Linked DNA regions of Homo sapiens. The protein of the gene in region 1 interacts with the protein of each later gene in a pairwise test. Each region holds a gene or a part of one and is shown on either strand. Other genes may lie near its edges. The genes, in order: CT45A1 and FAM133A.

Region 1 (3,832 bases):
CACACACACACATTAAAATCTCCCATTAGTTCTGCCTTTTCGTTGAAGGCTGATGATACAGATTTCAACATTGAGATCGGGTTCCCACTACACCAGGGGCTAAGGAAGAGTATGTGTGATATGTCTAGAGAGCTTCTTAGTCCTCCCGTGTTTTTCGATTAGAGTTAATGGAAGATCACAGCAACCCCATCCAGGCAGGACATCTAATGGTTCAGACTCTTCCGTAATGAAGGTTTGAGTCATCCTGCCAGGCCAAGCATCATGACCAACTGACATGCTATCTCAGGGCAAAGGGAATGTGAAATGGGTAGCGAAAGAACGTAGTGATAAATACCAGCTACAACACTGTGAGCTGCTGCAGAAACCACGACTGTAATAGTATTTACCTAATGGGTTAATAATATCTACCAGCACAGGTGGGAATACAAAATAACCAAAACACAAGTTATCCTTTCAAATAAAATGCTTTGGGAAAAAGAACATCTTTTACTAACAGAAATTTCTTAGCCTCTGGAAGGCTATTTGATTCGGTAACATATGCCAGGAGACTTCAGCAATATCCTGCTCCATTGTAGAAAACAGCAATCTGATCCTTTTCTCTCCTCAATCATTAACGAGATTATGCATTTGGGGTGTGATAATCCTCCAGGGACAAGTATTCTCAAATCATACGTTTCAGTTTCTTCTTAAGGTGCTTAACAAAGTCTCGTCTCATACATCTGAAAAGAAAGAGACATGTCATTAACCAAAAGATAGCCAAAGAACCTATGCTGTAGGAAGCGCTGTGACAGATAGAAAGATGAAGTAACAGTCAGCATGGAAATAGAAATGTATCTGCATGGTAAGAGGCAGTCTAGCCGGCATAACAAATGCTGGCAAGGGTGTGGAGAAAAGGGAACCTTCATACACTGTTGGTGAGAATATAAATTACTACAACAACTAACTATGAAGAACAGTTTGGAGGTTCCTCAAACAACTAAAAATGGAGCTATCATATGATCCAGCAATCCCACTGCTGGGTATATACCCAAGAGAAAGGAAGTCAGTGTACCGAACAGATATCTGCACTCCCATGTTTGTTGCAGCACCATCCACAGTAGCCAAGATTTGGAAGCAACCTAAGTGTCCACTAACACATGAATGGGTAAAGAAAATATGGTACATATACACCACAGAGTACTGTTTAGCCATAAAAAAAAGAATGAGATTCAGTCATTTGCAACAACACGGATAGAACCGAAGGTCCTTATGTTAAGTGAAATAAGCCAGGCACAGAAAGACAAACTTCACATGTTCTCACTTATTTTTGGGAGTAAAAGTGTAAAACAACTGAACTAATGGAGATAGAGAGTAGAATGACAGTTACCAGAGGCTACAAAGGTTAGTGGGGGTGGAGGGTGTGGGAAGTGGGGATGATTAATACGTAGAAGTATGGAATAAATAAGATGTCGTATTTCATAGCCAAACAGGGTGACTATAGTCGGTAATAATTTAATTGCACATTTAAAAATAATGAAGAGTATAATTGTATTCTCTGTAACGCAAAGGATAAAAGCTTGAGGTGATAGAAACCCCACTTACCTTGATGTGATTATTACACATTGTTGTCTGTATCACAATATCTCATATAGCCCAGAAATATATGCATCTGCTATGTGCCTACACAAATTTTTTAAAAAGAGGTAGTCTAGCAAATACAAAGAGTGTCAATTGAGGGACAATGCGCACCTCAGACTATGGTGAAAATGGAAGTCTCCATAGTCTTCGAAGAATGAGTTACACTCAGATAACATTAGCCTAAGTAACTGTGGAGACAGCCGTAACTGTGAGTGAGGACCAGGGTTTGAGAAACGCAAGGCAGGGGCTGTTCCCCAACGCTCACCCCCAGTGCTCTATTGAGCCCAAGTGCTTAAAGAAATTGGACAGTTCCTATTTCTACCCACCTTGCTGCTTCCTTGATGATGGATTCAAAAAATCGCTTCCTGACTGCAGTAGGTCCTTGCACTCCTTCAAGCATTTCGAAGATTTTTTCATATTCTGAAGATGTTGAAAAAAAAAAAACTTCAGTATTATCAAATATAAAGAAGAATAGAAGTGAATCTACACCTCAGCAATCATGCTTCAGAGGCTGAAATGTTTTAAATGCTTAAATCAAGATACCTGCACATACAAAACCTAAATAATAAAAAAGACACCTGCACATACATACGAATGTAACTCCTTTAACCATAACCAAGTAAGAAAAGAAAAAGAAAAAATGTACATGCTTTAGTCAAAGAAAAGAGGAACCACCATAAATTATGTGCAATCTCAACTCTGGCAAAGAATGAAACTCAACAGGCAACATGAATATCTTCTGAATCATAGAAAGAGAGACTTCCTATAGTTTTATAAAACAGACATTCTTATATTACTTACTTTGTCCAACGCATCGGAGTTCCTTCACTAATTTACGTTTTATATCAGCATTAATTTCTCGTTGGCTTTTGGGAGAGGAGGCTGTTTCTCTGCATTCTAGGTCATCTCCAGAGAAACTGCTGGTAACGTTTCCTCCCACAGGTGCATTGCTACCAGGTTTCTGCATCATCCTATCTTTGCTGAAACCAGTGAAGTCATCAATCTGAGAATCCAATTGGCTGGGTGGAATAGCATGTCCTGTCATAAGCTCTGGTGAAACAGATTTTGAGTAAAAGCCATCAGTTGGTGTTTGACCACTTTCTTTCCCCTCCACATAGACCTCATGAATGACAGCTCTGGAAATCAAACTGAGAAGCTGAGCTGTGAGATATGTGTGTTTCATCACCCCTCTGGGTACATCTATGTGCTCCTCAGTTTCTAGGGAATTATTTATTTCATAAATGGGAGGATACACCAGGGAGAAATCCCAGGCCTGACAAACGGAGGCCAGGACACATAATACAATAAAACCACCTCTTATTTTCTGGCCCTATGAATAGACATGGAAACCAAGTAAGGCAGTACAACTCTAAAGCAACATTCACAGATCCCTGGTACTCATGGGACAGTTTCAGCTTGTTATGCTTTACAAGTTGAAAGCAGCAAGTCTCACTTGATATCATGATTTCTCAAATTCACTTACAAACTGCCATGTTTTACTAAGCTGGAAGCCAGACAACTTGGACACACCTCAACCAGCCTCCTCTCTACATCAAACATATTCTGAGAAAATAGAGGTGGCCATTACTGCTGAAAGTTCTACATGTACTCCATCAACAAAAAATCCCTTTTAGTGTATGATTTTCCTCATCCTTCCTTTCTGTCTCACAAAAGTGACTTTCTTTTCACTCCAGGTCTGACACCTCTCATTTATTCATCGTCTGTGGCAGGCAGCGTGCCGGTAGCTGGGGATCAGCAGTAAACAGCCCAGAGAGCAACGTTCCCTGCCCTTCTGGAGCTCACATCCTCATGGGGCGGTCAGACAGTACGTGCACAATGAGCAAATGAAACATACAGTGTTGGGCTAGTGGTAAGGAAGCAGTCCACAGGCCTGTGGGCAACAGCAGCAGAGGGAGCCCCAGGAGCTGCTGCTGGTTGGGCAGAGCCTTCTGTGGAGGTACCCTTGGGCAGGGCTTGAAGGAGAAAGCAGAGCTGCCTGCGCAGAGGCAGAGGGGGAGTTCCAGGTTGCGGTGAGGCCAAGGATATGGGCTGGAGTGGGGATGGACCGGGCACTACGGGGTGAAGGACAGTAGCAGAGAGAGTCAGGAGATGATGGGGCCCGTGTGAGGAGAGGGTGACGGAGGCCAGGCCACGCAGAACCTCACAGACCAAAGCTGCTTCGCAGTCGGTTCTGAGTGCTTAGGAGTGTTGAGGA
Region 2 (3,832 bases), about 42 Mb from region 1:
TTGCACAATAAAGGAAGTAAATGAGTAAAGAGGCAACGTATGGAATGGCAGAATATATTTGCAAACCAAACATATGATAAGGAGTTAAATATTCAAAATATATAAGGAACTCAAACAACTCAGTAATTTTAAAAAACATAATTTTTTAAAATGAGTAAAAGATCTGAAGAGATGTTTTTCAAAAGGCATACAAATCGCCAATAGGTATATGAAAAAATACTTGACATCACTAATCATCAGGTAAATGCAAATTAAAAACATAATGAGATATCATCTCATGCCTGTTAGGACAGCTATTATCAAAAAGACGAAAGGTAAGTGTTGGTGAGGATATGGAGAAAAGTTAACCCTTGTAAACTGTTGCTGGTAATGTGGATTAGTATAGCCATTATGGAAAACAGTATGGACATTCCTCAAAACTACTGTAAGAATGGAACTACCATATGATCTAGTAATCCCAGTACTGAGGATATATCCAAAGGATATGAAATGAATACATTGAAGAGATATCTGTACTCCCATTTTCATTGCAGCATTAGGTACAATAGCCAAGATATGGAATAAACCTAAGTGTCCATCAGTTGATGAATGGATAAAGAAAATATGGTATGTATACACAGTAAAGTATTGATCAGACTTTAAAAAGGGAAATCTTGTCATTTGTGGAAACATAGACAAATCTGGAGAACAATATGCTAAGTGAAATAAGCCAGGAACAGACAAATACCATGTGATCTCACATGTGGAGCATAAAAATGTCACATTCATAGAAACAAAGAGTAAAATGGGTGGTTACTAGACAATTGGGAGTTGGGGGTTTGAGGAGATACTGTCAAAAGAAACAACACGGCCTGGTGCAGTGGCTCATGCCTGTAATCCCAGCAATTTGGGAGACCAATGTGGGCGGATCACGAGATCAGGAGATGGAGACCATCCTGGCTAATATGGTGAAACCCTGTCTCTACTAAAAAAAAAAAAAAAAAAAAAAAAAAAAAAAAAAAAAAAAAAATTTGCCAGGAGTGGTGGTACACACCTGAAGCCCCAGCTACACGGGAGACTGAGGCAGGAGAATCACTTGAACCTGAGAGGTGGAGGTTGCAGTGAGCCGAGATCACAAACTGCACTCCAGCCTGGGCAACAAAGCGAGACTCCGTCTCAAAAAAAAAAAAAAAAAAAAGACACATTTCAGTTAGACAGGAATGAGGTAAGAGAGATTTTGAGTGTTCTCACCAGAAAAAAATAAGTATTTACGGTAATATATATGTTAAAATGCTTGATTTAGTCATTCAACAATGTATACATATACCAAAACTTCATGTTATATGGCAAAATATATGTAATTTTTACATGACAATTAAAATTTCTTTAAAAAATAGCGCTATGTTAAATATCCAAATTGGGAAACAATTTTCCTTATCTTATGTTGCATTAAACTTCCCTTTTAAACTCCATGCAGTTAAGGGTATATTGCTAGAAACGCAATTCAGAAATGTTTCCTTAAAAAATAAAAATCTATAACAACATACCATATTCTGTTAATTTGAGTATATCTGTATTATAGGAATAAGTATAAAATGAAATATTTTTGTTTGAAAACCACTGCTATGGTTTGAAATGTTATAAAACAACCAATGTTTTATTTATTACTATTAATAATAGTAACATCATAACAACCAATGTTTTATTACTATTCTTTTTTTAACTATAATTTATTAACAGCTTAAAGATACTTTCTATTCAATATTTCCATTTTTGCAAGCAGGTCTCTCTTTATCAGGAGTGAGAAAAACAAGGGCATTATTTGTGCTCCTGAATAATGCTAACTACCATTCTTGTGGCTGGGCTATGGACATCTACACACTGGCAACTCCACAAAATAGAAGAACATTTATGTTTCTTTTTGTTATTTCTTTTCTAGGTTTTTACTGCTGTTATCTGACCCTTTATCTCACATAGTTGGGAGCAGAAGTGAAAGGTCAAGGATGAAGATCCAGCTCCTGTGACTGTCTCCATTGTAATGAAATTCTGTTATCACACAATTTTGTTCTCATTCTTTCCCAAATGCATCTAACAAATGGATAACTACCGATTGTGTCATTAAAATCAGTACACAAAGGAACAGATTAGAGCTTCCAACATAGACCCACACATACAAGGACAGCTAATTTTGACAAATGTGCAAAGGCAAATCAGTGGTGAAAAGACAGTCTATTCAACAAATAGTGCTGGAACAACTGCATATCTATATCAAAAGAAATAAACCTTCAATCCATACCTTGTACTTTTTGCAAAAATGTATCAGACCTAAATGCAAAACCTAAAAGTATAAAACTTAAAAAAAATGGAAGAAAATAATTGTGACTTTGGGTTAAGCAAAGATTTCTAAGAGATGACACACAAAGTATGCTCCATAGAAGAAAAACAAGATAAACTGGACTTCATCGAAATTGCAAACTTCTTATCCCAATTACCCTGATTTGACCATTACACATTGTATTCATGTATTGAAATCACATGTGCCCCCAAAATATGATGTATCAATATAAAAATTACTAACATTTCCTCTTTAAAAACAGTAAAAGGCACCCTTAAGAGAATGCAAAGAAAATATGCAGTCTGAGAGAAAATATTTGCAGAAGCTATAACTGATAAAGAACTTGCATCCAGAGTATATAAAGAACTATCAAAACTTAATGATAAAACAACAATCCTATTTTTTTAAATGGACAAAATACAAATGGTCACTTCACCAAAAAAGATATGTGGATGGCAAATCAGCACATGAAAAGGTATTCAACATCATTAGTCATCAAAGAAATATAAATTAAGATCACAATGAAATACTACTGAATACTTATTAGAATGGCTAACTTTTAAAACACTGCCCATATCAAATGTGAGCACTATTGGTGGAAATGCAAAACAACCACTTTGGAAAACAGGTAATTTCTTAAAAAGTGAAACATACACCTACCATGTGATCCAGTCATTCCACTCCTATGTATTTTTCTAAAAGAAATTAAAACATATGTCCATACAAAACTTATATACCAATGATCATAGCAGCCTTATTTGTAGTAGCCCAGAACTCAAAACAACAAAAATGCCCATCAACAAATTGTAGTATTGCCAGGTAATGAATAATTACTCAGCAGTAAACAGGAAAAATAAACTCCTGATACACACAACAACATGGGTAAATTTCAAAATAAGTCTGCAAAGACAGGCAAAAAGAGGAACATACTACATTATTCCACTTATATAAAATTTTAGAAAATGCAAATTCATCTATAGGAACAGAAAACAGATCAGTGAATATCTAGGGACAAGAGGAGGGATTCAAAGGCATATGAGGAAACTTTCAGGGATGACACAATTTTCATTATTTTGTCTGTGGTGATACTTTCACAGATACACACATTTATTGTGTGCCTATTATCCATCAATAAAATGGTTTTTAAAAAAGAATTCACTTGTGTATTCAGATACAACTTGTCCAAGAAGAACAGGAGGAAGTCATTCAAAAATAAATGAACTTGCAATGCTTTGCTTCTTAGATACCTACAAAAAAAGATAATGCTGCTACACTTGTCATTATATACCTTGCGTGTTTGTGTGGTAGGAGTGGGTGGTGGAAGGGATTGTGTGTATGTTCATATTAAGGGAGGTATCAACAGATGTTAATGTACTATGTTCAGTCTGAGTATACTATCAGATTCTGTGTTATGTATCATCTCATGTAGAAGCATGAACATTTAGCCCCCCCGCCAAAAAATCATGTTAATTGAACAAAAAAACATATCACTATGCAAATAATTTATATCTAACCTTA

What was found.
Region 2: the proteins of CT45A1 (region 1) and FAM133A interact in binary tests that used the Homo sapiens proteins (3 or more experiments, as listed by UniProt).

Annotation. Positions count from the first base shown.
Region 1 is NC_000023.11:135,719,863-135,723,694, reverse strand, and holds the end of CT45A1 (cancer/testis antigen family 45 member A1), read right to left. Parts: intron 2,668-3,832; coding exon 2,419-2,667; intron 2,038-2,418; coding exon 1,944-2,037; intron 720-1,943; coding exon 662-719; 3' UTR 467-661; downstream 1-466.
Region 2 is NC_000023.11:93,677,093-93,680,924, reverse strand, and holds part of FAM133A (protein FAM133A), read right to left. Parts: intron 3,010-3,832; exon of another isoform or gene 2,975-3,009; intron 1-2,974.